2 separate regions of the Homo sapiens genome follow, and region 2 is linked to region 1. Evidence: fine-mapped expression QTL. A gene starts in region 1. The other region holds a variant in brackets. All regions are shown on one strand. Distances are from middle to middle.

Region 1 (2,908 bases):
TCATTTGTTCATGTAGATTCACCTAGTTTGCAGAAGTTTGTGGTTATCTTATCATTTGACACAGTGAAGCCACCATATATTCTGAGAGCTGGTCACATTAAAGTACTTCCACCAACCTGAGGTTGGCACTGCAAACACTGAATGAGCACAGCATTCCTCCTTGAACCCAACGGGCTCTGCTGTATCTGTGGTTTACCAAAAGGCAAAAAGCTGGGTCCCACCTGAGGTTGGCACTGCAAACACTGAATGAGCACAGCGTTCCCTCTTGAACCCAAGAGGCTCTGCTGTCTGTGTGGTTTACCAAAAGGCAAAAAGCTGGGTCTCAGTCAACTGCTGAATGCATTAGAGTACAGAGGCTGTAGTCCTCAGGCCTCCCCCTCACTGCAAGGGTAACACAGGAAAGATAACCTCCCATCTTTGACACGCCAGCGGGGAGGAGGGGAAAGAACCTACACAAGTTGAGGAGCCCTTTTTCAGTTAAGCAAGTCAGTGGCCTTACGCACCATCCAAAACCACACACACACACAAACAAAACACCCTGCTGAAGGTATCACCACCTTAACCCAAACCTGGTACCTCTGCCACCAAGGCCAGCCTGGGCAAAGATTAACCTGTGGTCTTCGGCCTTGGGTTCACTGACAGGGCCACCTTGGAGAGACAGCAGGCCAACTTTCTGTTTGTTTTAAAGGAAATGCTTCCTGGCACATGTTTAGGACTCTGAACTCTGCACATGAAGCCACGTGGTTGGTGTTAATCTGGCTCCATCCACTCACGATCGGCCAAAGCAACCTATTTCCGAGGGCAGCCCCTGGCTGGGTAATCGACACCATCTCGTTCAAGTCACGCGGGCTCCCGCCGGATTCCCCGGAGCCTAGTGCCGCGTCCTCTCCACACAGCAATCCTCCCGCGCGAGGGGAGCGGGGGGGAAAGGGGTTGGGGGGTTTCAGAGGGGAGGGACTTACACCTGTGAGGCCAATGGCTCTAGCGGGTCAGGTGAAGTTCGAGGGCGCGGGACAGGAGGAGACTCCCGCCCTTCCAGTCAAGCCGGCTTTGCACTAGCAGAGTGCGCCGGCGCCCTACTTGCGGTGCCCACCTGTAGCCACAGCAAACAAACTTTCCTCCCCTTCTGGGTTGGAAGAATCCGGTGCCTTACGCCACCCCCTGGCCCAAGCCGGCGGCGACCCGGAGCTCCGCGGACTCCTCACCTGATACCCCTAAAATCCCAACCTGGTCTGTCCCAGAGCGCAATCCCCGCACTGCCCGCGCACCCCGTTTGGGTATGCGGAGTGGAGGGTCTGGGTTGCCAGCTGGATATTAGGAATTGGGGGGCGGGAGGAGCGGGGGGACGCGATTCACTGCCCTTTGCAACTCCAGCTCCCAACTTTGCCAGCCGCGCAGTTGCTGCCTTCCAATTTCCTCTGCGCCGCGCAACCGGCTCCCTCGGCTTCTCCAACGCCGTCCTCGGGGAGGGAGCTCCCCAAGGCCAGCAGGAACCCCGCGCGCCCGGCGCACTTACAGCCATAGCGGGGTCTCTGCAGCGACGGCAGCTCTTCGTGTGGCATCCTGCGCGTCTCCGGGGGCCCGCCCGGGGCGCGCCCCCCGCGGCTACCCTCGCTGGCCAGGCTCGCGGGCTCTGCGCCCCGCCGGCGCGCTCGGATCCCGCCTCTCGCCGATTTCCCCTAGCCGCCCGAAGATCTGCGACCCACTCCCTCGGTGCTCTCTCGCCAGAGCCAGCCACGGCCGCCGCGCGCTGACACTGAAGTAAAAGTGAACTCTCCTCCCTCGCTCCCTGGCCGGTCGCCGCCGCCTCCCGCAGCAGGTTTCCTTTCTCCTCCAGCCAGGCCCCGTTATTCACCGCGGTGGGAGCGCGCGCCGAGACGCAGCGACCCCTACCGCGTGTCGGGCGCAGCGCCCAGGCCGCGTGGACCCGCCCCTTCTCCCCCGGGGGAGAGGGAAGGGGCCGAGAGGGACGCTGGGCCGGGACCCCCTGCAGCTGGGGCCCCCGCACAGCTGGTGGCCTGGGGGTGGCGGCCACCCCGCCTTATTTCTCGCTTCTGGAGAGTTTCGAGGGTGGAAGTGAACCAACGCGGAGAAGTGCAAGAAAAACCGCAGAAGTCACAGGGAGCCCTTCGTGTCCGGGGTGTTGCTCAGTTACTGAGGGACAAACAGCGCGGTTCCTTTTCCTCTGGGGAGATTTCACGTTGACTTTTGTTCTTCTTCTTCGTCTTTTTGGTTTTGTTTTTTTTTGTTTTTTTTTTTTTTTTGCTTCGAAAGTTGCTTCTGTCACTTTTTGTCTACAAAATAACAGGGTTCCCCTTATGACAAGAAACTGAGTGTGTGTGTGCTGGAGGAACAAGATAACCCAAGGCAACCACTCAAAACACAACTGCGAGTCATCCCCCTCCCTCCGATCACCTTGTGCCCGCCCCCGCCCCAGTGTGCAGAGCCTTCTCTCAAGCCCAGCTGGGGTCGCAAGCCACAGAAACCTTTTCCGGCTAAGCTTTTAAGGAAATTAAACTGCATGTGGCTGTTTTGAAATCGGGGTTTTCATGCGGTCGCCAGGAGCTATTTTTCTCTTTGTGTCTCAGCGTGATAAAATCTGGAGGGAATGCGGGACGCTTCCGTACCTGTGCCCTCACCTATTTGACAATTGTGGAATGTGTGGGTGACCCGATAACAGGAAAAACAAACTGAGGGAGGGCGATAAGAAATTATTTAGAGCCGGGCGCGGCGGCTCACGCCTGTAATCCCAGCACTTTGTGAAGCCGAGGCACAAGGATCCCTTGAGCCCAAGAGTTCCAGACCAGCCTGGGCAACATAGCGAGACCCCGTCTCTCCAAAAAATGAAAAAATAATATTAGCCGTATTAGCCGGGCGTGGTGGTTGCGCCTGCAGTCCCAAGCTACTC
Region 2 (2,908 bases), 190 kb before region 1:
TTTACCTTTGATAAATTTATTATATGGGTTTGTACAGCTATATTTCAAACATCAGAAAATCATGTCTTTAAAACACTGTTTTCTCTCTCTCTCTCTCTCTCTCTCTCTCTCTTTCTTTTTTTGAGACAGTCTTGCTCTGTTGCCAAGGCTGGAGTGCAGTGGTGCAATCTTGGCTTACTGCAGTCTCGACCTCCTGGGCTCTGGAGATCCTCCGACCTCAGTCTCTACAGTATCTGGGGCTACAGTTGTGTGCCACCACACCCGGCTAATTTTTAAATTTTTTTTGTAAAGACTGAGTCTCTCTTTGTTGCCCAGGCTGGTCTTGAACTCCTGGCCTGAAGTCATCCTCCCACCTCAGCCTCCCAAAGTGCTAGATTACAGGCATGAGTCACTGCACCTAGCCTGAAAAACACTATTAAATAAACAATTTCTTCTAAAAAAATAAGGTAAGATCAACCACTCTTTTACACTCTGCATTTAACGAAATGTCCAGGCAGGGTGTGGTAGCTTTTGTCTGTAATCCTAGCATTTTGGGAGGCTGAGGAAGGAGGATCACTTGAGCCCAAGAGTTTAACACCAGACTGGGCAATAGAATAAGACCCTGTCCGGAAAAAAAAAAAAAAAAAAAAAAAAAAAAGCAAAGAAATGCAAAATGTCCAGCTCTGATCTTAACAGAAAATATCATGCAATGAATGGAATGCATTTGCTGAACCTGAAAGGTAAAGGGTTATAATGTGAACAAAGCTGAGGCCTCTAACAACAGATCTGTTGACATTACCACCAACATTGTCACTGATGCTATTACTATGGTTGCTATGAATGTGGATGCCTTAACATTTTAATATAATAACCTACATGGTTGAGGAAAATCTTGTCAAAGTAATGATTCTTACTTTTTTTTTTTAAATTTTTTTTGAGATGGAGTCTCACACTATCATCCAGGCTGGAGTGTAGTGGCGCAATCTCAGCTCACTGCATCCTCCACCTCCCACATTCAAGTGATTCTCCTGTCTCAGCCTCCCAAGTAGCTGGGATTACAGATGCCCGCCACCACGCCTGGCTGACTTTTTGTATTTTTAGTAGAGACAGGGTTTCACTATATTAGCTAGGGTGGTCTTGAACGCTTGACCTCGTGATCCACCCATTTCAGCCTCCCAAAGTGCTGGGATTACAGGTGTGAGCCACTGCACCCAGCTGATTCTTACGTATTTTAAAGTGTACAATTGTCTCATTGTCATGTCATCAAAATGAGGGTTTTTTTCCTAAGGTTACTTTCAGTTCTACTGGACTATAAATTTTAAGATGGGGAGAGATAAAAAGACTTCAGAATAATCATGTTCTACACATTTAAAGCCATCAAACCTTGCTTTCATATTTTCAGCCGGTTTTACCATTAGTGCAAAACATCCAATGCCTTTTACTTAAAAATGGAAAAAAAAAGTATAGCCAATTTGGCATTAAATTTG[C/T]GGTCAGGAAATTATGGCACTGAGTAAAGAACTAAAACATTTATATAAAGCATTTTATTTAACATGAAAAAGAAAACTGTTTTCATGGTTATAAATATTTCAAAAATAAAGGATGGTTAAAGGCTATGGAGCCATTTCCTCTCTAGGCTTATGGACCTCAGATGTCTCACTGGCAACATTAATTTCCTCCTGTAATTCATTTCTGTCAAGCATCACGAAGTTCTCAGCTTTCGCATAGAGCAAAAAGACAAACTTTAAATTGTACTTCATGTATCATCAGTAACATGTTCAAGATTTCACAAGAATAAAACAACAGGCACATGCACCCTAAAATGTTAAGGTGTTACCTTAAAAAAATAAAGGCAATTGAGAGTTTTCAGCCCAGTTATGTGTATGTGAGGCATATTCTCAAACACATTCAGTTGTTAACTCCTAGACATTTACATTAACCCTCTGGGGCTTTCCTTAATTACTGTTTGAGCCCCTTAGGATATTTCTCTCCAGCAATTTAGGAGCAGACTTCTTAGTAACACCGTGGGTGTACACTTCTTTGCAAGAGTTACAAGCAAAAAAGAATATTCAAAACTCAACGAGGATGTTAAAAGGAAGGCAAGGTTTAGGACTGTTGTAATTAGTGGATACTCCAAATTTTAATTTCGCAGGGAGTTCACATGCTTTATTAAGCAGGCTAAATGGCCTTTCATGTATTAGTTTTTTGGGTATATATGGATTATCTAGATTGACCAGGGAAAAATAAACATCAAATGAAATTTCTTACTGACTCTTCTGATGCTCAAGTAAAAATAGGTTTTGCCAGAGGGGAGAAAAGACTAATAAAAAAATTGATGTATCTCAACCTGCATACGCTTATTTTAATTACCTGAGTCTGCTGTTCTTTACAATCAGACACTTGAGCCAGGTACTAAGAGGAACTCATCTGCTTGACTCCACAGAGGCTCAGGGGTGTGGGACTCAAAGCTGCCATCATGAGATTTCATCTGGCCTGTCCATAGTCCCATTCACTGGCACCAAAGTTACACAAGTGTAAGAAAAATCTTACAAACAACAGACTAATGGCTGGGAAGTCACAGAGAGCAGTGGTGTCAATAGTACCTTTTACAATTCCAATAGAACATCATCGCATAATCATGGGCAAGCAACTACAATCTGTAAATTATAATCTTTTACTAAATGACCTTCAGTATTAGCCCCAAAAGTGACAGAATTAAAATGTGGAATGTAATGAAACAGGAAGGTAGAATCAAACTAGCTTCAGGATACTTTGTGTGGACTGAGATCACCAAAAAAAGCCCAGTGGGAAACTGCCAAATGCTGCACCATAATTAAGAGCAACACTGACACTGAGTAGATTTTTCATTGTATAAGGCAGTTTTCCAAGTATACAAATTGAGAGTTGTGTTGGGATTCTGGCAAGGAAAGTC

Alleles and levels. Alleles are on the strand shown, and positions count from the first base shown. SD is a standard deviation of normalised expression in the study named.
For the expression in esophagus muscle of the gene that starts at base 1,823 in region 1, allele T in region 2 goes with a lower level than allele C (small effect, 0.16 SD a copy in GTEx).

Evidence for each region. PIP is the estimated chance that this variant, and not a neighbour inherited with it, causes the effect.
Region 2: its variant is the best candidate, but not a certain one, in a credible set for the expression of IQGAP2 in esophagus muscle (GTEx, PIP 0.68).

The regions. Positions count from the first base shown.
Region 1 is chr5:76,402,200-76,405,107 of GRCh38, reverse strand. IQGAP2 (IQ motif containing GTPase activating protein 2) reads right to left here and starts at 1,823. Exons shown (of 36, transcript NM_006633.5): 1 at 1,517-1,823. The coding sequence starts at 1,562. RefSeq lists silencers at 1,512-1,621, 1,792-2,141 and an enhancer at 1,358-1,858.
Region 2 is chr5:76,592,973-76,595,880 of GRCh38, reverse strand. The region is part of intron 9 of IQGAP2 (IQ motif containing GTPase activating protein 2); the gene reads right to left. Among named protein-coding and RNA genes, the nearest start is that of F2RL2, 29 kb to the left of the region's middle. The variant C/T (reference allele first, on the strand shown) is at 1,467.